7 linked regions of the Homo sapiens genome follow. The protein of the gene in region 5 purifies or fractionates together with the protein of the main gene of each other region. This does not show direct contact. Each region holds a gene or a part of one and is shown on either strand. Other genes may lie near its edges. The genes, in order: NOC3L, WASF1, RAI14, GCN1, ZNF746, PC and HADHA.

Evidence for each region.
Region 1: the proteins of ZNF746 (region 5) and NOC3L purify together in Homo sapiens (affinity purification with mass spectrometry, with the first as the bait; one large-scale study listed by BioGRID). This does not show direct contact.
Region 2: the proteins of ZNF746 (region 5) and WASF1 purify together in Homo sapiens (affinity purification with mass spectrometry, with the first as the bait; one large-scale study listed by BioGRID). This does not show direct contact.
Region 3: the proteins of ZNF746 (region 5) and RAI14 purify together in Homo sapiens (affinity purification with mass spectrometry, with the first as the bait; one large-scale study listed by BioGRID). This does not show direct contact.
Region 4: the proteins of ZNF746 (region 5) and GCN1 purify together in Homo sapiens (affinity purification with mass spectrometry, with the first as the bait; one large-scale study listed by BioGRID). This does not show direct contact.
Region 6: the proteins of ZNF746 (region 5) and PC purify together in Homo sapiens (affinity purification with mass spectrometry, with the first as the bait; one large-scale study listed by BioGRID). This does not show direct contact.
Region 7: the proteins of ZNF746 (region 5) and HADHA purify together in Homo sapiens (affinity purification with mass spectrometry, with the first as the bait; one large-scale study listed by BioGRID). This does not show direct contact.

What each region holds. Positions count from the first base shown.
Region 1 is NC_000010.11:94,338,940-94,342,439, reverse strand, and holds part of NOC3L (nucleolar complex protein 3 homolog), read left to right. Parts: intron 1-694; coding exon 695-767; intron 768-1,943; coding exon 1,944-2,007; exon of another isoform or gene 2,008-2,012; intron 2,013-2,092; coding exon 2,093-2,164; intron 2,165-2,519; coding exon 2,520-2,701; intron 2,702-3,500. UniProt on the Homo sapiens protein: May be required for adipogenesis.
Region 2 is NC_000006.12:110,169,671-110,173,170, reverse strand, and holds part of WASF1 (actin-binding protein WASF1), read left to right. Parts: intron 1-3,500.
Region 3 is NC_000005.10:34,809,828-34,813,327, forward strand, and holds part of RAI14 (ankycorbin), read left to right. Parts: intron 1-1,184; coding exon 1,185-1,291; intron 1,292-1,939; coding exon 1,940-2,118; intron 2,119-2,352; coding exon 2,353-2,381; intron 2,382-3,500. UniProt on the Homo sapiens protein: Plays a role in actin regulation at the ectoplasmic specialization, a type of cell junction specific to testis. Important for establishment of sperm polarity and normal spermatid adhesion.
Region 4 is NC_000012.12:120,139,216-120,142,715, reverse strand, and holds part of GCN1 (stalled ribosome sensor GCN1), read left to right. Parts: coding exon 1-209; intron 210-1,692; coding exon 1,693-1,857; intron 1,858-3,500. UniProt on the Homo sapiens protein: Ribosome collision sensor that plays a key role in the RNF14-RNF25 translation quality control pathway, a pathway that takes place when a ribosome has stalled during translation, and which promotes ubiquitination and degradation of translation factors on stalled ribosomes.
Region 5 is NC_000007.14:149,491,310-149,494,809, forward strand, and holds part of ZNF746 (zinc finger protein 746), read right to left. Parts: intron 3,195-3,500; coding exon 2,895-3,194; intron 2,807-2,894; coding exon 2,680-2,806; intron 1,664-2,679; coding exon 1,550-1,663; intron 1-1,549.
Region 6 is NC_000011.10:66,874,884-66,878,383, reverse strand, and holds part of PC (pyruvate carboxylase, mitochondrial precursor), read left to right. Parts: exon of another isoform or gene 1-74; intron 75-3,500. UniProt on the Homo sapiens protein: Pyruvate carboxylase catalyzes a 2-step reaction, involving the ATP-dependent carboxylation of the covalently attached biotin in the first step and the transfer of the carboxyl group to pyruvate in the second.
Region 7 is NC_000002.12:26,238,133-26,241,632, reverse strand, and holds part of HADHA (trifunctional enzyme subunit alpha, mitochondrial precursor), read left to right. Parts: intron 1-2,489; coding exon 2,490-2,531; intron 2,532-2,628; coding exon 2,629-2,699; intron 2,700-3,500. UniProt on the Homo sapiens protein: Mitochondrial trifunctional enzyme catalyzes the last three of the four reactions of the mitochondrial beta-oxidation pathway.

The sequences.
Region 1 (3,500 bases), on a different chromosome or scaffold from region 5:
ATGTCACTCATAAGGTCTTTTATTCTTCTAAGATTTACATAGATCAAAGACTTCTTGCTAATATTGAAGAGATGTCCTGACTTTAACCTACTTCAGTGTCTACTATAGTATATGGAGTAACTCTCAAATTTAGCAGCTCATATGATTCTTCTTTAACCCTATTGGGTGGTCTCAGTTATTTCTACAAATAGAGGCCCAGGACAGTGAAGTGAGTTACCTAGGATCACGCAGGTAATTAAGAGCAGAGCCTGAACTAGATACTGGGGTCCAGTATTCTTTCCATTTTATCCTTAAAGCTGTCATAAGGTCCATATTCTTGTAAGTAGCAGAATCTTTCCTTGTCTCTCTTCCCACCACCTGTTTTCTTAGAAGCCGATCCTGCCGGATACCTCCTAAACTTTCCTCAGGAAGTTGTTTGCTTCTAGTAATTTCTTTCTCAGTGCAGAAGGATTTTTGAAATATTTTTGGTTTGTTCAGTGCCTTATATATTTCTACTGAGTTTAGTGTTCAATGGTGTATGAATTGTTGAAGAGGCCAATCTGAATTAATGAAAAGTATCAATAATTGCCATGTCTTTCATAGCTAACATTTCGAAATAAAGAATATTAAAAATACAGTTTTAAAGTCAAGCTTAATTTCTACCAGCTTTATTTCTGCTTTTAGTTCACTGATTAACTGTTTTGTTTGATTCCAGGTTTGCTCACCTTATAAATGTGGAATTTTTTGATGATCTGTTAGTAGTTCTTCATACTCTCATTGAGTCTGGTGTAAGTAATAATAAATTATTTTTTAAAAGATATAAATGGTAATTACTATTTTAAAAATTTTTCAGGTTTATTGAGATATATTTTGTATACAGTAAAACCCCTTTTAGATGTACAGTTTATGAATTTTGACAAAGGCCTATGATCATATGATTACCACCACAGTCAAGATGTAGAACGTTTTCAACCATTGGAGAGTTTTAAGCAGGAGGGTTGTCTGACCTGTTTTCTTTTTTTTTTTTTTAAATTGATGCATAATAGATGTACATGGTTTCAGGGTATATGTGATAATTAAATATATTCATATAATATAGTTTGTAAATATTTTACTTGGGATATCAGTCACCTTAAATATGTGTCTTTATGTGACAACCATTCAAATTCTTCCCTCCTAGCTATTTTGAAATAGATAATAGATTATTGTAAACTATAGTCACCCTGTAAATCTGCCTCATACTAGGTTATCTTAAAGATAACCTTTATAGGTCTTTTTTTTCTTTTTTGAGATAGGGTCTCACTCAGTTGCCCAGGCCGGAGTGCAGTGGTGCAATCACAGCTCACTGCAGCCTTGACCTTCCAGGGCTCAGGTGATCCTCCCACTTTAGCCTTTTGAGTAGCTGGGACTACAGATGTGGGGCACCATACCTGGCTAATTTTTCTATTTTTTTGTAGAAATTTTTTTTTTTTTTTTTTTTGAGAGGGAGTCTTGCTCTGTCACCCAGGCTGGAGTGCAGTGGCGTGATCTCGGCTCACTGCAAGCTCCGCCTCCCGGGTTCACACCATTCTCCTGCCTCAGCCTCCCGAGTAGCTGGGACTACAGGCGCCCACCACCATGCCCGGTTAATTTTTTGTATTTTTAGTAGAGACAGGGTTTCACCGTGTTAGCCAGGATGGTCTTGATCTCCTGACCTCGTGATCTGCCCGCCTCGGCCTCCTGAAGTGCTGGGATTGCAGGCGTGAGCCACCGCGCCCGGCCCTGAGAGATGGGTTTTTGCCATGTTGCCCAAGCTGGTCTTGAACTCCTGGGCTCAAATGATCTGCCTGCCTCAGCCTCCCAAATTGCTGGGATTACAGGCTTGAGTCTTTGCTCCTGGCCTTAAAGTTCTTTTTTAAAGCTATAAATGGCAATTACCATTCTTAATATTCCATCCCCCTCACCCCCCCCTTTTTTTTTTAAAGGACCTAAGCTATCAAGAAAGTCTTCACTGTGTCCAGACTGCTTTTCATATTCTTTCTGGACAAGGTATGATATTTTCTTAATCAAGTTTTGTTTGCCTTACCTTTGAATGCTATAACATACCTAATTGGTGTTTGTTGTCATTTCAAAGGTGATGTTCTGAATATTGATCCATTGAAATTCTACACACATCTCTACAAAACACTGTTCAAATTACATGCAGGTATGTATGTTTAGATAATGTTTCTTTTATATGTATTTATGTTTTAAGAATATGTTATGACCCATCATTGTAGACAAATGAGAAATAGGAACAGGTACATAAAATGGTGACTTTCCAGTGCCATGCATCTGTATTTAATCTTATGTAAGACTTGGAGAAAGAGCTTCTGGAATTGACTGGAGATGCAGTAAGTATAGCCCGCTGTATCTCCTTAGCAGTATAGCACTACCTCATTGATTAGAGAAATGGTTTGGGACAGGTACAAAAGTTTATCTTGGGTTTATCTGAAGTTCAGTCCAGTTGCGTAATGAAAAAGTAATGAGAACAGCTCTGAAGAATATGTCTGCTGTTTTAGGTGCTACCAATGAAGGTGTTGAGATTGTACTCCAGTGCCTTGATGTCATGCTAACTAAGCGCAGAAAGCAAGTTTCTCAGCAGCGAGCTCTTGCCTTCATCAAACGCCTTTGTACCCTTGCTCTTCATGTTCTTCCAAATTCAAGTATTGGCATTTTAGCAACTACCAGAATATTAATGCATGTAAGTAGTGATACAAATGAACAGAGCTAAGTTCTTATAATGCAATGATTTTTTTTGTTTGAGGCATGTCTTTTCCCCCCTTTTATATTATTTCAATTACAGAAGTAATTCACACTTGTAACAAAATCAGGTGACAAAAGAGGTATATAAAATTGAAAAAAAGCATTTTATACCTATTGACACTTCTCAGTGTCATTAGGTGGGTATCCATTTACCATTTGGTGGGTATTTTTCCAGCAGCCTTTTAAAGTTCATATATAAACACATACACATAGAAACAACTCAACTTTGTATTTTAATGGAAAGAGGATTATGCTATATATTCTACCACTTTTTTAACCTTAGCATTTAATCATGGTAAACACATTATAATGTCACTACTCTCTTTATGTAAGGTTTATTTAATTCTTTGCTTAACAAACACCATAGTTCTGACTATGTGCCTTCCAGTTATAAATGCCTTACAAAAATTTAATTTTCATAACTCTGAGGTAGCTACTATTCTTGTTCCTATTGTACATGTGGGAAAACTGAGGTCCAGAGAGGTTAAGTGTCTTGGCTTGAGTAGCAGTGCCAGTCAGTGGTAGAAGTGATATTCAAATGTAGGCAGTCTGGTTTTTCTGCTTCTTTCTATTTCTCTTGATATAGGTTATTTCTTTTTTTGCTATTACAAATGATGCTATAGTGAATATCTTTATGTATTTATCTGATGTAATTATTTCTATCAGATTTCTAAAAGTGTGATTGCAAGGTGAGAAGCATATTTTTTTCTTTTGCAAGATAAAATTAATTTTCAAAG
Region 2 (3,500 bases), on a different chromosome or scaffold from region 5:
GTTTGATTCCTTTACCAAAAAAGTCAAGTGTGTTATGTTTTCACCTTATGCTACAAAAGTAAGTTTGTTTTCTAGTTGTTTTAATAGGGACATCTTGCTAAATTTGTTAAATTTGCTAAATTTTTATAACATGCATGTGCTACAGGTTATGCCAGAGAATTGTGAAAGGGTTAAACGAAAAGGGAGGAACAGTGAAGCATTTTATATTTTAGTCGAGGATGAAGACTAGCACTCACTTCTTAAAATTATTTTTATAGATTTAGAGGGTACACGTACAGTTTAGTTACATGGATATATTGCATAGTGGCAAAGCCTGGCTTTTTAGTATAGTGTACATTGTACCCATTAAGTAATTTCTCACCCCTCACCCACCATCTATCCTTCCACTCTTCAGAGTCTCCATTATCTATTATTCCACTCTTTATGTCCATGTATACAAATTATTTAGCTCCCACTTATAAATGAGAAAATATGGTATTTGACTTTCTGTTTCTGAGTTAGTTCACTTAGGATAATGGCCTCTGGTTCCATCCATGTTGCTGCAAAAGAGATTATTTCATTCTTTTTAATGGCTGAGTAGTATTTCATTGTTTGCATTTAAATTTTCTTTAATTATCCATTGATGGACACTTAGGTTGATTCCATATCTTTGCTATTTTGAATAGTGGCACTGATTTTTTTTTAAACCAAAATAAAAGCCCTGTGTGGTACATCATAATACACAACTACAAATTTATCAATTTTGTTATTTTCAAGGAATCTTCATTTAGTTTCATTGTTTTTTTCTCTTGATTTCCTGTTTTCAATTTCATAGATTTCTGCCTTAATTATTCCATGGTGTATATGTGCCACATTTGCTTAATCCAGTCTGTCATTGATGGACATTTGGGTTGGTTCCAAGTCTTTGCTATTGTGAATGGTGTCGCAATAAACATACGTGTGCATTTGTCTTTATAGTAGCATGATTTGTAATCCTTTGGGTATATACCCAGTAATGGGATTGCTGAGTCAAATGGTAATTCTAGTTCTAGATCCTTGAGGAATCGCCACACTGTCTTCCACAATGGTTGAACTAATTTACACTCCCACCAACAGTGTAAAAGCGTTCCTATTTCTCCACATTCTCTCCAGCATCTGTTGTTTCCTGACTTTTTAATGATTGTCATTCTAACTGGCGTGAGATGATATCTCATTGTGGTTTTGATTTGCATTTCTTTAGTGACCAGTGGTGATGAGCATTTTTTCATGTGTCTGTTGGCTGCATAGACGTCTTCTTTTGAGAAGTGTCTGTTCATATCCTTTGGCCACTTTTTGATGGAGTTGTTTGTTTTTTTCTTGTAAATTTGTTTGAGTTCTTTGTAGATTCTGAATATTAGCCCTTTGTCAGAAGGGTAGATTGCAAAAATTTTCTCCCATTCTGTAGGTTGCCTGTTCGCTCTGATGGTAGTTTCTTTTGCAGTGCAGAAGCTCTTTAGTTTAATTAGATCCCATTTGTCTTATTTTGGCTTTTGTTGCCATTGCTTTTGGTGTATTAGTCATGAAGTCCTTGCCCATGCCCGTGTCCTGAATGGTATTGCCTAGGTTTTCTTCTAGGGTTTTTATGGTTTTATAGATCCTTCTACTTTTCTAATACAGACTTCATGATATTTTCAACTTAAAATAGGTTTATTGGGATACAACCCCGTTATAAACTGCGGACCGTCTGTATATATACTTGGTGCCATAAATTTCCCTCCAAGCACTGCTTTTGATGTATCCCACACATTTTGATAAATTGAATTTTCATTTTCACTTAATACAAAGTATTAAAAAATTTCTCTTGAGACTTTGAACCATGTGTTATTTAGAAGTGTGATGTTTAATCTCCAAATGTTTTGAGATTTTCCCATCTATCTTTCTGAGATTGCTTTCTGGTTTAATTGCATTGTGGTCTGAGAGCATATACTGTATTAGTTCTGTTCTTTTAAATTTTTTCAGGTGTGTTTTATGGCCCAGAATATAGTCTGTCTCAGTGAATGACTTATGTGAGCTTGAGAATAACATGTATTCTGCTGTTGTTGGTTGAAGTACTGTATAAATATCAGTTAGATCCAGTTGATTGATGGTATTTAGTTCAACTGTATTGTTACTGATTTTTTGCCTGTCAGTTAATTACCGATAGAAGGATGTTGATATCTCTAGCTGTGATCATGAGTTCATGTTTCCCCTTGTAGTTTTATCAGTTTTTGCTTCACATTTTGATGCTCTGTTAGGTGCATATACATTAAGAATCATTAGGTCTTGGAGAATTTGCCCCTTTATCGTAATGCAATGCCTATCTTTATCCCTGTTAATTTCCCTCGCTCAGAAACCTACTTTGTCTCAAATTGATACAGCTACTTCAGATTTGTTTTGACTCGTGTTAGCATGGTATATCTTTCTCCATTTCTTTACTTTTAATCTATTTCTACATTTAAAGTGGGTTTCTTGTATACAATATATAGTTAGGTCTTTTTTTTTTAATCTACTCTGTCTCTTATCTTTTAATTGGCATATTTAGACCATTCACATTTAAAGTGATTATTGACATAATTGTATTAAAATCTACTGTATTTGCAACTTTTTTTATTCATTGCACTTGTTCTTTGTTTCATTAAAAAGAAAAAGTTGGCTGGGCTGGTGGCTCACACCTGTAATCCCAACACTTTAGGAGGCTGAGTCAGGCCAATCACTTGAGCCCAGAAGTTTGACACCAGCCTGGGCAACACAGTGAAACCTTGTCTCTACAAAAAAATACAGAAATTAGCCAGGTGTGGTCACATGCACCTGTAGTCCCAGCTACTTGGGAGGCTGAGGTAGTAGGATCACTTGAGCCTGGGAGGCGGAGTTTGCAGTGAGCCAAGATTGCACCACTATACTCCGGTCTGAGTGATGGAAGGAACCTCTGTTTCACCCCCTCCACCCCCAAAAAATGTCCTCTCTTTTTCTGCTCTGACTTTAATTGAGCACTTTGTATGGTTTCCTTTTCTCTCCTCTCTTAGCATATCAATTATACTTCTTTCTCTTTAAAATGTTTTGTAAGTGGTTGTCCTAGTTTGCCTCTCTTTTTGTATGATTACCGAGGAGAAGTCCAATCTAATTTTTATCCTTGTCCCTCTATAGGTAAAGTGGTTTCTCTCTGTCTTTCAAAATTTTTCTTTGTCTTTGGTTTTCTGCAGTTTGAACATCACATGCCTAGGTGTAGATTTTCTGGTATTTATCGTGGTTGATGATCTCTGAGCTTCATGGATTTGCTGTTTGGTTTCTTAATTTTGGAAACATTTTGAGCACCTGTATATGCTAGGCATTGTACTAAATATCTTACGTATTTGATTTAATCCTCACAACAACCCTGTGAAGAAGTATGATTCTCATTATTTGTGGTGGAAACTAAGTTTTAAGTATAGACCACTACAGAATTTTTTTACAATAGTCACTAAAATTTAACTGCCTTGGGCTTACCCCTGACTTAAGCTTCCTCT
Region 3 (3,500 bases), on a different chromosome or scaffold from region 5:
ACGTAGAATCTCCCAACTTTGAAGACCATTACTAGGCTATTTTAACTTCACCAGGCTACTTTGAGAATAAATTTATATACCTATCACATGGTTCTGTCATGGGGTTATATTTCATGTTGCAGCATGAGAACTGACATGCATACACTTATATTTGATGGAGATGCTGTGAAGTGACTAGATAGAATCTGTAAATAAATTCATATTCCTTGAAGTTCAGTACTTCCTAAGCAGAAAGTAGTATAACTTCACAGAGATAGTGCCCAGAAATCTATCTGAAATTCTTTATGACAATACTCAATCTTTAAGTAGCACTTGTATTTTTAAATAGTTGGATATATTGTAACATCTTTTCCCTTTGCCTATTGAATGCTTCTACCTTAAAACTCACTGTCGATGGATTTATAGGGTATATTCCAGAAAAAAAACAAAATAACAACTTCTCTTTATGGTTTGTGTCAGACCTAAGATTACAAAAAATACTTATGTATATTCTTCTAGTATTTTTCATCATTTGTTTTATATTGTAATGTTTAAATGCTTAATCCACCTGACATAGTTTGTATATGAGTTGGAGACCTAGATTTCCTTTTTCCCAAAGGGGTTGCAATTGTCATGACATAATTATTCTTTCTATCCATTTCTTTATCTAGTCATGTGTTAGTAACAGACATAGGCTCTTAATTTATGTTATATTTTGATACATAGCAAGATTACTAAAGGGTACACTTTCGGTAAAAGTGGAATGGCAGGATATATAATGATTAGTGCACTGGGAATAAGCTGCCTACAGGGCAGTGGGATCTTCTGGTGTCGTGCGGAGACACGCCCTTCCTTTCTCCAGCACCGTCCCTCAGTATACCCGGTACACTTGCCTTGAGCCTTTACACACTTTGTGTTCTGTCCTCTCTCACAGTCACCCAAACAGTGATAGCCAAGGGCATAAGCAGCCGCAAGAAGCTGGAGCTCCTATGTAAAAGCTAGCATTCAGTAAAATTCCATAACAAGAGTTGTGCCAACATACAATCGTGACTCTATAGGGGTACAGAATATCAGGTTGGACCAGATACTAGATCAGCAGTCAGCAGTCCAAGTCAGGAGAAAAATGTGCAAAAAACAGGGGCTGACTTTTGCAATTCTGGCATTTTGTGCCTGAGGTAAAATCTAAATCTGAATTTGTCTCCTAGGATGGGAATATACCGCTGCTTCTTGCTGTACAAAATGGTCACAGTGAGATCTGTCACTTTCTCCTGGATCATGGAGCAGATGTCAATTCCAGGAACAAAAGTGGAAGGTACTCCAGAATTAGGCAGAAATCATGTGACTTCAGTGATACCCACATTCTGAGAGTATTTCAAAATATCACAGCTATATTTTGGATCATTTGTTATAAGGGATTTTTAACTTCTTACCTTTTTAAAGTTCTACTGTTTCTGATAATCAAGAATCTATGTTGACTTTAAAGCAATTTTCCCCAGACATCTGTGGACATCATTGCTGGCTAAGTCTGTGAGGAGACTATTAAATGCTAATGTGAATAAACAATTTCCTGTGACTTTCTATGCAAAATAAAACAAACCTATTGGTTGTTTTGGAGAAATGGTCTTAGAAATATATATGTTATTTAAAATGCTTGAGGTAAAACAAGGATAAGATTCATGCCAGTCATATTAAATCCCATCATATTATGCCAAATAGTATAGAAGATTGTGTTGTTTGACAAAATGTGGTTTAATGTTTTGATTTAATCTGAAGTTTAAAAAAAAAAAAAACCACCTAATTTCATCTTGATTGCATTCCACTTCGAATTCCCTGAAGATTAAGTGTAATAAAGGTTTAACTGCACTTAATCTTCTTTTCTCTTTTTTTAAGACAACTGATTTCCCAAGAAAGACTTTTTACATTCTCTTAGTACTAATTTTGTGTCTCTTTTTTCCTTTAGAACTGCTCTCATGCTGGCCTGTGAGATTGGCAGCTCTAACGCTGTGGAAGCCTTAATTAAAAAGGGTGCAGACCTAAACCTTGTAGATTCTCTTGGATACAATGCCTTACATTATTCCAAACTCTCAGAAAATGCAGGAATTCAAAGCCTTCTATTATCAAAAATCTCTCAGGATGCTGGTATGTAAAAGAAAATAGCCAATGTTGTTTTAAGTTTATCCACTCCATTTTCCCCAAAGGATAAAGGAATGTGTGCAATATGATATATTTTATTATTCTTTTAAACATATTCTTGAAAAAAAAAGGAGTGTTAAAAAATATTGTATATGGTGTATGTGTGTGTATCCCCCCACCCAAAGTGAATATGAATCATTATGCTTCTTATAGTTCTTTTTTTCACTTTTTCCTCTATAGATTTAAAGACCCCAACAAAACCAAAGCAGGTATTTATCTTTGGGGGAGGCTTCTATGTTTCATTTATGCTTGTGGGAATTTAAAAATGTTCAGATTTAACCACTCTGGTCCACTAGTAAAGTAATAAAGACTATATTGAAAATACTTAGGGACTGAAATATCTTTGAATAAATAAGTCATTGTTATAAGGTGTTAAAGGTTGCCAGGCCGGGCCGGTGGCTCACGCCTGTAATCCCAGCACTTTGGGAGGCCGAGGCTGGTGGATCACCTGAGGTCGGGAGTTCAAGACCACCCTGACCAACATGGAGAAACCCCGCCTCTACTAATATTACAATATTAGCCGGGCATGGTGGTGCGTGCCTGTAATCCCAGCTGCTCGGGAGGCTGAGGCAGGAGAATCACTTGAACCCAGGAGGCAGAGGTTGCGGTGAGCTGAGATTGCACGATTGCACTCCATCCTGGGCAACAAGAGTGAAACTCCGTCTCAAAAAAAAAAGGTGGTAAAGCTTTCCTTAATAATTTGCTTTATTTCAAAAGCATGTAACTTTAAACTTGCTACTTATATGTTCATCTTTTTCTGAAATGTACTAACTCATACTTCCTATTGGTGTGAAAATGTTTGATGTGGCTTAAACTCTGTGACTGAATAACACTGTTTTAAATACTTGTAATATCACATGAGCTACAGAGCTTCAGCCAGAAAATGTTAGCTATTTAATGAAAATAAGAGAATTTAGCCTTTTCTTTTAATTAGGGTTTTTCTAGAACGTCATGTGGTGTTACACAAAGTAGAAATTGAGTTTGCCCTGTTATTGTGTAGTTTTTTCTAAAAATATATTGTCACTATCTGTTTTTTTGATGAACAGTATATGTTTGGTTGTTTATTTATTTACACATCTACGTTCTTGAAGAAATCATAAACAGCAAATACTCAATACTAAATTTATGTGCTAACTGTATTACTTACCAGTAACCTTCAAAAATGAAGTTATCCCTTTCCCTCATATTTATAGTCTTTAAAAAAAGGAATGGAAGTAATGCAGACGTGTGGGAAATACCATTGCTTTTCATTAATACAGAAAGCTGGCTGTGATTGTATTCTGGATTCTAAGTTGTAGTAGACCTCAACCTCTACTTTCCCAGTTCTC
Region 4 (3,500 bases), on a different chromosome or scaffold from region 5:
TCACTGCCCTGGGGGTAGAGCGGCGGAACCGGGTGTTGGCAGGGCTGTACATGGGCCGCTCAGACACCCAGCTGGTGGTGCGGCAGGCGTCCCTGCATGTCTGGAAGATTGTTGTCTCCAATACCCCCCGCACCTTGCGTGAGATCCTACCCACTCTCTTTGGGCTCCTGCTGGGTTTCCTGGCCAGCACGTGTGCAGATAAGAGAACGGTGAGTTTCCTGGGCCTTGTTTTGGACCAGCAGCCCCAGTGCCTCCTTTCAGAGCCTAGAAGGCTGGGTCTGCAGAGCCTGGGAAAGTACCCATCCACCCTGCCTAACAGAGGGACATTGTGTTCTTTACTTAGTCATTCTGCAAATATTTTTTGATTAATTTTATTTTATTTATTTTTTTGAGGTGGAGTCTTGCTCTGTCGCCCAGGCTGAAGTGCAGTGGCGTGATCTCAGCTCACTGCAAGCTCCGCCTCCTAGGTTCATGCCATTCTCCTGCCTCAGCCTCCCGAGTAGCTGGGACTACAGGCATCCACCACCACACCTGGCCATTTTTTTATATTTTTAGTAGAGACGGGGTTTCAGCACGTTAGCCAGGACGGTCTCGATCTCCTGACCTCGTGATGCGCCCGTCTCGGCCTCCCAAAGTGCTGGGATTACAGGCTTGAGCCACCACGCCTGGCCTCTGCAAATATTTATTAGCATCTCCTGTGCACTAAGCAGGGGCCTAGCACCTGGGGACACAATGGAGAAGAAAGGCAGCTTCATTCCTTATCCTCATGAGAGGTAGTCTAGTCGAGGAGATGGATATTAATCAAATAACCACACAAAGAGATGTAAAATGCGACTGTGGCCAGTGCTGCATGGCACTGCAAATGCTTATAATAGCTGCATTTGACCTGCTGGGGAGGGATGGGCCTGTGTTAGTGAACACTTCTCAGAAGAAATGATGCTGGAAGATGAAAGATAAGTAAGCACTAACCAGGTGAGGAGGTGGCGAAAGACCATTCCAGACAGAGGGAATAAATAATGTTTCAGATACAAAGACAGGATATGCAGAGGTCCCGTGGTGGGCAGGAACATAGCACCAGTAGGGGCTGAGCAAGGCCAGTGTGGCTGGAGTGAGGAGGCAGGGAGGAGCAGTGCGGCATGAGATCAGGCTGGCGCGCTGGCAGGGGCAGACAGATCAGTGGGCCTGGAGGAGGTGCCCAGATGGGCTGGTGATCATTTCTGCCCATCTCCTTTGGTCTACTTCCAACCCCCCATCCTTGGCAAGCAAATTGTGTATTTGGCTCTAAAGAAGGGTTTGCATGAGGTCTCAGAAAGTAGATGTTTTTTTTTCCTTAAAGCTTTGTTCCAGATTCGGCTCCTGCTCAGCCATAGCACAGTGTTAAGGCTTCAGTCATCCAGGGAAATTGGCCCTTGACTGTGCAGCAGATGATGAATTTTTTGTACATGTGTAAGGTGCTGCTGGCTCTTAATGTTAGGTTGTGTAGGTGTGTGTGAAACAGATAATTTTTTGGTAGTGTTTTGCAAGCACTACAGAGAGTATTTGGGGGCTCTTTAGGGGTAAGAGCATTTGGGGAAGTTAAGTCAGTGATTCAGATAAAGCCTGGGAGGTTTCAGGGCCCTCATTCTGGAGTCCTCCTCTGGGTGCCCTGGGCTTTGCAGGGACTTTACTTCCTGGATTGGTCTCTGTTGACAGATTGCAGCGAGAACATTGGGAGATCTTGTGCGGAAGTTAGGGGAGAAAATCCTCCCCGAGATCATCCCCATCCTTGAGGAAGGCCTGAGGTCTCAGAAGAGCGATGAGAGGCAGGGTGTGTGCATTGGCCTAAGTGAGATCATGAAGTCCACCAGCCGGGATGCCGTGAGTATCTTCCAAGGATCCCGCCAGCTGTGCACTGCAGACGACCTGACTCAGAGGGCGGGGGAGGGCTACTGAAGGAGGTTCACCTCTAGGGGGTTTGTGCTGCCCTCAGGGATGAGCCAGTCTCACTCTGGGGAGGTGCTGGCTGGGCCACATGGACTTGAGGCTCCGTCTTCTCAGCTTTCCTGTCAGTTTTGCAGGCTAAGAGCTAAGTGATTTGGATGCCTCCTTGAGTGGCCTTTGGAAACTGGAGATGATCGCTCTCTTACAACTGTGGAGGTTGCTCAGGATCAGTCTCTTTTGTGATGCTATATAAGTCCAGTTAAAATGTGTGCACCTCCTTCTGGGAAAGGGGATGGACAGCTGTGTGAGTGGGTAGGGCAGGAGGGTGCGGGAGGGGGTGTGCACTCACCCTTAGCAGGAGGGGAGCAGGTAAGAGTTGTGGTGCCAGGTGGGAGGAAGCATATTGCGTCTGGCAACAATACTGTTTCCATAGCAGCAACGTTCAAGGGGTGTGAAGTCCATTACTCTTACTTGGTTCCTGAGTTAAATGATCCTGGAGACCACCCTGGGGAGTAGGTTAGGAGTGCTTTTAGGCACTGCCTTCGTGTTTGGATGAAAACGCCAAAGCAATTAAGTGGATGGCCCGCTAGAAATGTAAGCAAGTGGCCAGTTGCTTGGCTTGGGCATCCTTGTCTGAATTCCTAGGATACCAGATCCCTCTTCTCCTATATTGATGTTTGTCTTACGTTTGGTTTTTAAAATTTACATTTGGCAAGGAATCAAAAGAAATTCTGTCATCAGAAAGAGTTGTGATTCATTGGAGAGGTAGAGTTCCACAGAGGCTGAGTTCTTGTCTGCAAAGTCCCCACAGTCCAATGGCAAGGCCCACATGCCAACCAGTCATTAGAATGCAGAGTGGGCTTTGCTGTGCTGGGATCGTTACTGAGGGAGCAGAGCCATTATTGGCTCCATTGTAGACCCAAAGACTTCATAGAGCACAAAGTCTGGATTGAGACTTGAAGAAGGACTTGGAGTTTTCCAAGAGAATAAGCAAAAGAAAGAGTCCAGGGAGAGAGGGGGCCAGATGCCATGGGAAGGAGTTTGCAGTTCTTAGAGAAGATGGGAGGTATATTGAGAATTCACCTAAAAGATTCAAGCTGTTGATTATTAAGTCTCAGTGAAGGATACATGGGGGTGCATCACATCCTCTCTGCTTTTTTTTTTTATTGAGACGGGGTCTTACTCTGTCACCCAGGCTGGAGTGCAGTGGTGCGATCATAGCTCATTGTAACCTTGACCTTCTGGGCTCAAGTGATCCTCTCGCTATGGCCTCCTGAGTAGCTGGGGACTATAGGTGTGCACCACCACACGTAGCTAATTTTTGCATTTTTAGTAGAGGTGAGGTCTCACTATGTTGCCCAGGCTGGTCTCAAACTCCTGGCCTCAAGTGATTCTCTTGCCTCCACCTCCCAAAGTGTTGGGATTACAGGCGTGAGCCACTGTGCGCGGCCCCTCTCTACTTTTTAATTTTTTTAAAATTTTTAGTTTAAGACAATCTCACTCTGCTGCCCAGGCAGGAGTACAGGGGCACCATCTCTTTTGGCTACAGCCTCTGCTTCCTGGGTTCAAGCGATTCTTGT
Region 5 (3,500 bases):
CAGCAACCAGCGTATTTCCAGCCCCTCTTTACTCTCATTGAATGATGCTGTGGAAGTGAGGGAAGCCTCCACACATGGTGTAAATACAACGAAACCCACCCACCCAGAACCTCCCACCCAGGCTAGGAAGCTGGGGACGCGCACGGGTTGTAACCCTCTTTTCCAGCCCAATAGTATCTGTTCTCAGCCATCTTTCTGTCCTCTAGTGTTCAGCACTGTCCTTGACGCCTAGAAGATTCTTAAAAATGCATCTGTAGAGCTAAACTGTCAATGTCCCGATGACGACTGGCAAAGCGGCCAGCCCGGAACATGCTTCTGCCCTTAGGAAAGTGCAAATCTGACTGAGATGAGATGACGAACATGGGGGATGCATTTAATTTCACACAAGTGGCGCACAGGAGGGCCTCTGCGGACCACCACCTTTCTCAGTGTCAGACGAAAGGGAAAACCAAGGCAGGTGGGACGGTCAAGGGCGGGTCTTCTGGAGGAATCAGGGGTCGAGCCTTGCAGAGATGTGGTCTCCCTAGTCAAATGACCCAGCAGGTCTTCACTTTAGGAATTTGGTTTTTCTCCTGTGTCCACCTGTCCTTCCCTTAACTTTCAAAGGTGCTGACTGGCTCCAGGGAAATCTGAGACGCTGATATCTGGTAACAAGATTCACCTTAAATAAATGTGTGCTTCTAATAATACCAAACCATAAGGCTGACCAATGTAGACCAAAGTAGCTCTACAACTGCTACTGGTTTAAATTAAGGTTGGTTCTTGGAGGCAAGGCTGACTCTTTGCAAAGCTTTGGATTAATTTTGTTGTCAATATACAGCTGACCTTGAACAACATGGGTTTGAACTATGCAGGCCCACTTATAAATGGATTTTCTTCTGCTTCTGTCACCCCTGAGACAGCTAGACCAACCACTCCTCTTTCTCCTCAGCCTACTCAATCTGAAGAAGACAATGAGGAGGATGACCTTTATGATGCTCCACTTCCACTTAATGAGTAATAAATATATTTTCTCTTCCTTATGATTTTCCTAGTAACATTTTCTTTTCCCTAGCTTATTGTAAGTATCACTATGTAACACACAGAACATACAAAATATGTGTTATTGACTGTTCATAGTATCAATAAGGCTTCTGGTTAATAGGAGACTACTAGCAGTTAACTTTTTAGAGAGTCAAAAGTTATACATAGATTTTTGGCTGCGTGGGACTGGGGGCTGGTGCCCCTGGCCCCTGCGTTAAGGGTCAACTATGCTCCTGCCTTCCCTCTCAGCGTTCTCCTCTCCCTCCCCTCAACCTGTGCCCTGCCTTTGTCTCTTCCTAAAAGATTAGGTTTGCCACCTGTTTCCCTGACAGAAAGTGTTCATTTCTGGAGCATTAGCTGACTAAGTTAGAGATTAAAACTCAACTATAAAAAACTCAAGACATAAAACCTGTAAGTTTCATGTTTCTCCTCGACTCTCTCTGGAAAGATCACACCCTTTCTGGCCTTTCCGTCTCTGTTTCCTGCACAATACCTGATGCCTCCCTGGCCTTCTCCCAGCCCTTACCTGGACTGGGGTCCACAGGAACATCTGGAATCTTGGGGCCAGGGCGGCGCCAGTTGCAGGGCTCCTTCCCTTGTTCAATCTGGGAGAGGACCTCGGGCTTGGAGATGGCGTAGTCTGAGGAAAGACAGAAGGTTAGTTTTTGCCACGTTCCAGTCAAAGCTGGGGACAGTCATCCCGGAAAACCAACAATGGTCTAGAAATGAAATCTCTTGATTGTCACAAAGCAGTAGCTCTCAACCACAGGCAATTTTGCTCCCTGGGGGCATCTGGCAAAGTCTGGAGACAATTCTGGTTGTCATGCCCAGGGCTGGGGGAGAGGTGACTGGCATCTGGAGATGCCCTGAGAGGCCAGGGCTGCTGCTCAACATCCTACAATGCAGAGGATGCCGCCGACACACAGAATCACCTGGTCCCAAATGTCCACAGTGCCGGGGTGAAGAAACTGCCACAGAGCGTGCACGTTAAACAGCAGTGCACTTGTGCTGACGAAACAACCTCACGTCTGCACCTGCTCCTGCCCTCTCTAACAGGTCTCACTGCCCTCGGCTCCGGGGTCACACAGAAACCATTAGGAAGAGAAAACCAGCCCAGGAAGAAACAGAGTCCAGGCCCTTCCTGGGCAGGATTAAACAAGGAGAAGAGCAGTAGCCCCAGGGGCTGAGGGAAGCAAAGTTTTGAGGCATGAAGAAAATGTCTGCTGCAAGCAGCACCGTCTGCCCATGTTCTCCACTGACCTCGAGGCATGTTGCCGTAAGGGCCACGCATGTTTGTAGGAGAAGGCTGAAGGAAAGAGTCTTTCTCAAATGTGAGTCAATTACATACTGGATCTGAGAGCAGATGGGGCCTTCCCCGCTCCAAGTCAGCAAGAACAGAAAGGTCCACATCCCGGGCCTGCGTAGGAGAGAAGCCACCGCCGTTCCCAGACTGGCATTCTGGGAAACTCAACACAGGGAGAAGGGAGCTTTTAACTCCATCACCCAGGGCTCATCCTTCACAAAAGGTAACAACTTGCAAGGTCAACAATGTTTCTGGTGATTTATATAACACTGACATGAAAACAACTATGTGGAGGGAGAATTCTGAGGACTTGCAAAATCCCATTTAACAGAGAAATGAGTGTCAGGCCTTACCCAGGGAGACCAGCGTCTCGTAGTTGCCCCTCATCACGTGCTTGTAGAGCTCCTTCTGCCAGTCCTCCAGCTTGCCCCACTCCTGCTCGGAGAAATACACGGCCACATCATCAAAGGTCACGGGCACCTGGAACCACAAGTGTCACACTCGCTCACCCACACGCTCACGGGTTTGGCCGCTTGGGCTCCCACACCCCAAGGCGTCCCAGGGCTACCTTAGGGGACTCCCCCTTGCTGCCCGGGGGCAGCCGCAGGATCCAGAAGTTCCTGTTGCGCAGCAGGTTCTCCACGTTCTCCAGCCGCCTCTGCAGCAGCCCGTACTCCTGCAGCAGGGTCCCCAGCACGGCCCACTTGCCCTCCAGCTGGTTCCCGAACTCCACGGCTGTCTTCTCGCAATCAGCCAGCTTCTTCTCGGCCATCCCGGTTCGACCTTCTAGGGAAAGCAGGCGAGCAGCCTGCGATTCAATCTTCCTCTCCATGGCCTGAATCGTGGCTGCCATCGTCCACGGAGAAATCTTTCAGAAACAAAAGAGAAACTGGCATCACTCATTCCATCCACTGTCTTCATTGAGCCCCTCTCTCCCTAGGCACGGGGGAGTTGGGCTGGGAGTCCATATGTGTGGACAAGTGGGGCTATCCTATACCACATGCCAGATCTCAGGTTGGCCATCACCTGCTTGGGTATGTTAGGTCTATGTCTGGGTGGGTGCCTTTACTCCAGGCCTCTGCAGCACAATGCAGACCCTTATCACGGTGCTTATCACCCTACACAATAATTTCCTACCCACACCTACACTGTGGGCTCCCTGAACATGGTATTG
Region 6 (3,500 bases), on a different chromosome or scaffold from region 5:
GGCAGTGGGGAGTGAGTGTGGTGTGGACAGGGGAGGAGAGCAACAAAAATGACCTGTTTACCCACAAACCACGGGTAAGTGCCCCTGTGGTCGCAGGGTAAACCCACCCAGGTGGGAGGAAAGGACTGGGGCTCCCTGGAAAAAGCTTGAAACTGCCCTGGAGGTTTGAGAATCTCGGTGCCAGTGGGCTGCTGCCAGCTGTGAGGCTGCTCACCTATAGGCAGGCCAGCAGGTGAGGAGGGGGAGGGTGCTAGGCTCCTGGGAGACACATAGCCAAGTCCTCCCACCCAAGGAGTCGGTGTAGCAGGAGCTCCCTTCGCCTTTTCCTGCGGAGCTCTTCCTGTCCCTTCTGTATATTTCTTCTTTTTTTTCTAATTATAAATAACGCATCCCCAATGGAGAAAATATGGAAATTTTCCATATGGAAATATAGAAAAGCATAAAGAAGGAGGAAAACACAACTCTACAGCAATTCCATAGCACGTGGGAGTGAGGAGGGTGGCATGCAAGCAGTCCTACAGTTGTTGCCATTCCTTTAAAAAAACTTCATGAGATCATGTTGTTTACCATTAAATTTTCTTGGCTTCACATTACATCACAAGCATTTCCCATGTCATCAAAACCTGTGCAAACACATTATTGTTAATGGTTACATAATGTCTGTGGGAGCCAGGGTGTGGAATCTTTAAATTGCTTCTCATGATTTTCTGTTGTAAATAATGCTGCTTTGAACATCTTTCTGCGTACATCTTGGTTCCCATTTTGGAATATTTCCTGGGGTTGGATTTCTGGAATAGTAATGACTGGGCTCAGGGGCATAACCCGCCACCATGCCTAGCTAATTTTTTTGTATTTTTTAGTAGAGATGGGGTTTCACCGTGTTAGCCAGGATGGTCTCCATCTCCTGACCTCGTGATGCACCCGCCCTGGCCTCCCAAAGTGTTGGGATTACAGGCGTCAGCCACTGTGCCCGGCTTTTTTTGTTTTGTTTTGTTTTTGAGATGGAGTCTCGCTCTATCACCCAGGCTGGAATGCAATGGCGCGATCTCGGCTCACTGCAACTTCCGCCTCACAGGCTCAAGCAACTCTCCTGCCTCAGCCTCCCGAGTAGCTGGGACTATAGGCGCCCACTATCATGCTGGGCTAATTTTTGTACTTTTAGTAGAGACGGGGATTCACCATGTTGGCCAGGGTGGTTTTGAATTCGTGACCTCAAATGATCCGCCTGTCTCAGCGTCCCAAAGTGCTGGGATTACAGGCGTGAGCCACCGCGCCTGGCCGGGCATAAATACCTTAAAGGCTCTTGATAAGTTTTGCAAACAGCTTCCCGGAGAAGCTGCCGTGATGCTCAGCAGTGCCTGCGGGCCGCCTCCTGAAGGCCTTCCTGGCGCTCAGCACTGCATTTACAAAGCTCCCAGGCAGGAGTGGCACCTCATGGTTGTATTTTGAATCTCTTGCTTTCTCGTGGGTTCAAGAGCCACTTGTGTTTGCTGTCTTGTTGCTGTGCTTGTCCCGAAGGCTCCCCTCGCCTCTTCCTGACTTTGCCCTATGTGGTAACTTGAGCTCTTTTGACATGGCCTTTCCCAGCGCTCAGCAGAGTAGACATTTGGTGCCCAGGAGGAGGGTGAGATTTACACCCCACACCTGCTCTCTGATGCCAGTGCCGCCTGCTCCCAGCTGGGAAAGACCTGTCCTCCTAGTGGGCAGCATCCGATAACTCGCCTGGAGCAGGGCTTAGAGGATTGTAGATCTGCATGTGGGAGATAGCAGGGTGATAACGTCTGACGTTCATCCTGCTCTGAGCAGGGTGTCTCCACACCTGAGCTCCTCGCTGGTGCTCCCGGCACCTCTTGAGCAGCAGGTGCTGGGGCATGCACTCCCTAAGGTTATCTCCTCCAGCGGCATTAGCGGTGGGTATGGTTCTTTTCACTTGTCAATTTGAAATGATTTCAGACTTTCAGTAAAGTTGCAAGAGTAAGACAAAGAATTCTCGTACCCCTGACCCCAGTTCCCCCAATACTAGCATTTGCTTCATTGTTCCCGTTTTTCCCTGAACCATGTGAGTGGGTGTAAATTGCAGATGTGGTGCTCGTGGACCCTTGAGTTCCTCAGTGTTTTTCCCTAAGAATGAGGCTGTTCTCTAACATAACCACAGTCCACTGATCAAGATCAGGAAATTGATATCAACGCAATCCTCTTTCAAACCTGCAGACCTTATTTAAATTGTATCGTTGTCCCCTGATGTCCTCTTAGCAATAGAAACCCGGATCCAATCCAGGATCGTGTGTGGCTCTCACCATTGTTGCTTTGGTCTCCTTTCATCTGAAACCGTTCTTGCGTCTTTGTCTCTCACGACCTTTGACATGTTTGAAGAGTCCAAGCCAGTTATTCTGTGGAATTTCCCTGAATTTGAGTTTGCCCCTTGCTTTCTCCTGATTAAATTCAGGCCGTGCACGGCAGCGGGAACCCCATCAGGAGGTGTGTGGTATCCCTTCGGTGCTAGTGATATTAACCTTCATCTCTCGGTCAGCGTGGTGTCCGCCAGGTTTCTCCACTGTGCAATGAATAAGGACAAGGTATATTTTAGAAAGAGGAGGAGCCCAGAGTCCAGCAAGGTTACTCTACCCACGTTCACCATAGCCGGGTGTGACCTGGGTGCCTCCTGGTCACCGCAGTGGCCCCTTCCCAGCCCCCATCTTACCCTGCCTCTGGGAGTCATGCTCTGCCCAACTCGCGCCCCATCCTCCTGAGAGCCGCTCGCTTCTGCCCAGCGACCCGTGCGTCCCTCCCTCCTCCAGGCATCCCCCCTGGGCTCCTTCTTGGCTCTTCCTCCTCGGCCAGACTCAACTCCAGTGGGCCTGAAGACGCAGGCCTGACCCACTTCTCCCAGGCTGTTCTCTCCCTGGCTTCAGACACCACCGCCCCTGTGATGCTGCCCAGGTTCTTGTCCCTGCTCTTCCCCCTCTGTGAGCTTGCCTCACTCCCAGCCCTGCCTTTTCTGTCTTGCCCTTCTTATAGCAGGAAAAGTCATCTCCACCCACCCATACAGGATTTCTTCCTCTACCTTGCTTTCTATGGGGGGTCTCTCGACGAATCTTGTCTGTCATAGCCCAGATGTTTCCTAAGCCCCACCCCGACCCCCATAGCTTCCCCCTGTCAGAGGCTCCGCGTCTCTCAGCTCAGCCTCTGAATTGCCCCAGACATGCGTCGTCTGTCAGCCCCTGCTGCTCGCCAGTCCAGAGAGATCCTTTCCACTGTGCATCGATCATGTCCCTCCTGTCCTGTCCATGGCTGAAGGGAGGCCTCAACCACTGGGCCCTGTCTGTGGCTGCAGCCCCACCTCAGGCCGTGGGCTCACACTTCCCTCTCTCAGGACAGCACCAAGCCTGTTCTTCCTGAGAACTTCACAATTGCTATCCCTTCTTCCTGGAGCTTTCTCTGCGGATCTGTGCGTGGCCGACTTCTCCCCATCCAGGTCCCAGCTTCTGTGTCCCCTCCTC
Region 7 (3,500 bases), on a different chromosome or scaffold from region 5:
GTCACCCAGCCTGGAGTGCAATGGTGCGCTCTTGGCTCACTGCAACCTCCGCCTCCCGGGTTCAAGTGATTCTCCTGTCTCAGCCTCCAGAGTAGCTGGGATTACAGGCTCCTGCCACCACGCCCAGCTAACTTTTTTTTTGTTTTTTTTTTTTTGTTGTTGTTGTTGTATTTTTAGTAGAGACGGGGTTTCGCCATGTCAGCCAGGCTGGTCTCTAACTCCCGACCTCAGGTGATCCAGCCACCTCAGCCTCCCAAAGTGCTGGGATTACAGGCGTGAGCCACCGCGCCCGGCCATAGATTGTGTATTTTTAAATTTGATTCTCACTTCCTTAATCTCGTCGCTTCTCCCAGTGTTGAATCTTGAGAAAAGCTGTTGATTATTACAACCAAAGTAATGTTTTCAAATTTGAAATTTATGTTAGCATAATCCAGCTCTCTTCGCTGACTGTAGTCTTATGAGGTTTTGTAGTTATTCTTGGGTTACATTACAAAGATGATTAAAAAGTGGGGCAAAGGTTTCTCTCTACTTTGCTGGCACAGTAGATGTAGGCTAAAGTTCACTCAGCTGCCATAGGGTAAGCTCTGCAGTTAGGTAGTGAGTAAGGCTAGACTCCAAAAGCAAAGCTACCTTGCAGTGTGACTTGATTTGGTTGACTCTGGTTTGGAATTATTTTCGAAGTATGTTCATGTATATACTGGTTTTCTATTTGTTTCTATTTGTCTTGATCTTGGAGAGGTTTTGTGTATGAGTGTGTGGGCAGCATAGGTAGGTTAGTGGACAGGAGTTAAAATGGTTTAAACTGTTGGCTAATGACCACTAACCTGTTATCTCAAATATTTGATCTTTAAAACTGCAACCCAGTGGGGCATAGTGGCACATGCCTGTAATCCTAGCTACTCCGGAAGATTACTTGAGCCCAGGAGTTCAAGACCAGCCTGGGCAACATAGGGAGACCTCGTCTCAAAGAAAAAAAATGTTTTTGAAATATTGCAACCCATGCTCACTCTATTTCCTTTTTTTGCTTAGGTGCTTATTTTCTAACATATTTGTGTTTCTTGGTTTTTCCCTCTCAACCTGCATTCCCAATCAGTTCATTCCCACTCTAATCCACTTTACCCTGTTTTGCTAGAATTACCTATCCCCTTCTTCCCTTCCCACTGGAATTTCTACTTTGCAGGAAAACTTTTTCTATGCCAGGCCTATTTTCACTTTTCATTTATCTTCACTGAGTAGGAACTGATTCTTCCCAGATATCATATCCCCTGCTGACCTGGAATGTAAGCTCCACCAAGACAGGGATTTTTGTCTTTTTTGTTCACCCTGAATGTCCTGCTGTACTCCAAGTGCCTAGAACAGTGAATGGCACATGGAGGTCACAATATATGTTTTTGTTGAATGAATAACAGATTATGTTGGAAAAGATTACAATGTGGTTGGTGAAACACCTGCTACAGATGCAGCAGTTAGAGGACAGAACATTAAATAATAAAATAAAAATGCAGGCAAGGAAAGGAAGGATCACTGTAGACAGAATCCGAAGATGAGGTTTTGTGGAAAAGAGTGGAGTCATGATGCAAATATAAAGAAGGAAGAGTGGTAAATACAGATGACACAGATTTCAAATGATGGAAAAGCAAAGCAGGAAACATACTATTAGTCAAGTAGAGGCACTGGGGATTGAGGAGATGGCTGGCTTCTCCCATCTTAAAACACTGAAGTTCACTTGTAAGAGACTTGTTCACAGTCACACAGCTAGTAAATAAACCTGATGGTTGAACACAAGTCCTTTGCCTTTGCACTAAGTCGGCTGGCTTGGATTGCTTAAAGAAGAAATGCAGGCAGAACCTGAAATCACCCCATTCTGCTTCTGGTGCTAACCACAGTTTTCTTTCTTTTTTTTTTTTTAATGTGTCACCTTGCCTTTCCAACCAGTATAAAGCTGCTATTTTTTGTGCCTTCTCTTCCCTTTCCATAAGGAACTGGGGGATAAAGAGAAAATACGGAGGCAGCAAGAGCCTTGGCAACCTACTGATGATCCTCCCCTATTCCACTCCACCTTCACTGGGTTCTCCAGTCAGTAGTTCCCATGTGCCTCTTACATTGCTATCTCTTTGGTTCTCTTTGCTTCCCTCTTCCCTTTTGTGATTACACTGGGCCCACCTGGATAATCCATGATAAACTTTCTTTATTAAGGCCAACTGATTAGCAACTTTAATCCCCCCTTTGCCGTGTAACCTAACATATTCACAGGTTCTGGGGATGTATATCCCTTTGTGGGGGCCAGTCTTCCTCTTTTAGTATCCAAATAATCATCTGACCTAACAACTGAAATGGAAAAAATATGGCAGTAGTCATATGGCCTAGAATACATTGTACAGATTTGGGGTTTTTGTTGTTGTTATTATTGTAAATTACAGCTTTGTTATATATAAAAGGTACTACAGAAATTGTTTCGCAAATTAATTTTGAAATGTCTTTTCTTACAGGTTATATATGCCGCAATTTTACAGGGTCTTCTGCTTTGCTGAGTAAGTTTAATTTCTTTTTAATGTGTATGCTTACATTGCTTTTTGGATTTATGTTGCAATAAATATGTTTACAAATAAATCTTTCTTTTCTTTTTAGCCAGAACCCATATTAACTATGGAGTCAAAGGGGATGTGGCAGTTGTTCGAATTAACTCTCCCAATTCAAAGGTATCTCATTTAATTTGCAGTTTTTTTCTGCTAACCGCATTATGAATCTAGTCCTGAATGGGAAAGATGTATCCCATATTTCCCCAAATCTACCAATCTGGCAGTAATCTTACATGAATTTACAGTTTTGACAGTTATGTTAAACTTTGACAGATTGCCAAGGGAGCCAGTTTTCTAAAGCAGAGGTTCTTGCGTAAGAATTCCTCTTGTTGACCTTAGGTGCCACCAGCCTCCTGGTTATAGTGTAGAATGAGGAGGTGACTTATTAGAGAAGAACCAGAGTACAAGCTTTGTTTATAAGACTCAAAATTTGCCTACCCATCTTAAATATGAGGTTGTTAATCCATTTTCTTCATTACTTGCCTGACATAAGTCACTATTCATAGTAAGTTGGCTGAGTGAAATGTGGATACTTGGCTCTTAAGCTTCCTGAGGGATCTGAATGACTCAATGCAATTCACATATTGGAAATCAAGTTCTGTTCGAATTGAAACTTCTTTTGTTTTTGGCAGCTTCAATAAAGTGTGTAACAGTAATCCATTCTTTTGCCAAGAAGAGCTTTATTGTGAGAGTCCATGCTTTTCCCCCATCTAAATTTGGTGTATTCTTACTTTAAAAATCTTGTAGCCAGGCTGGGCACTGTGGCTCACACCTATAATCCCAACACTGGATGGCCGAGGCAGGAGGATCACTTCAGCCCAGGAGTTTGAGACCACCCTGGGCAACATAGCAAGACCTTGTCTCTATAAAAAATAAAAAATAGTTGGGTATGGTGATGTTCACCTGTAGTGCTAGCTACTC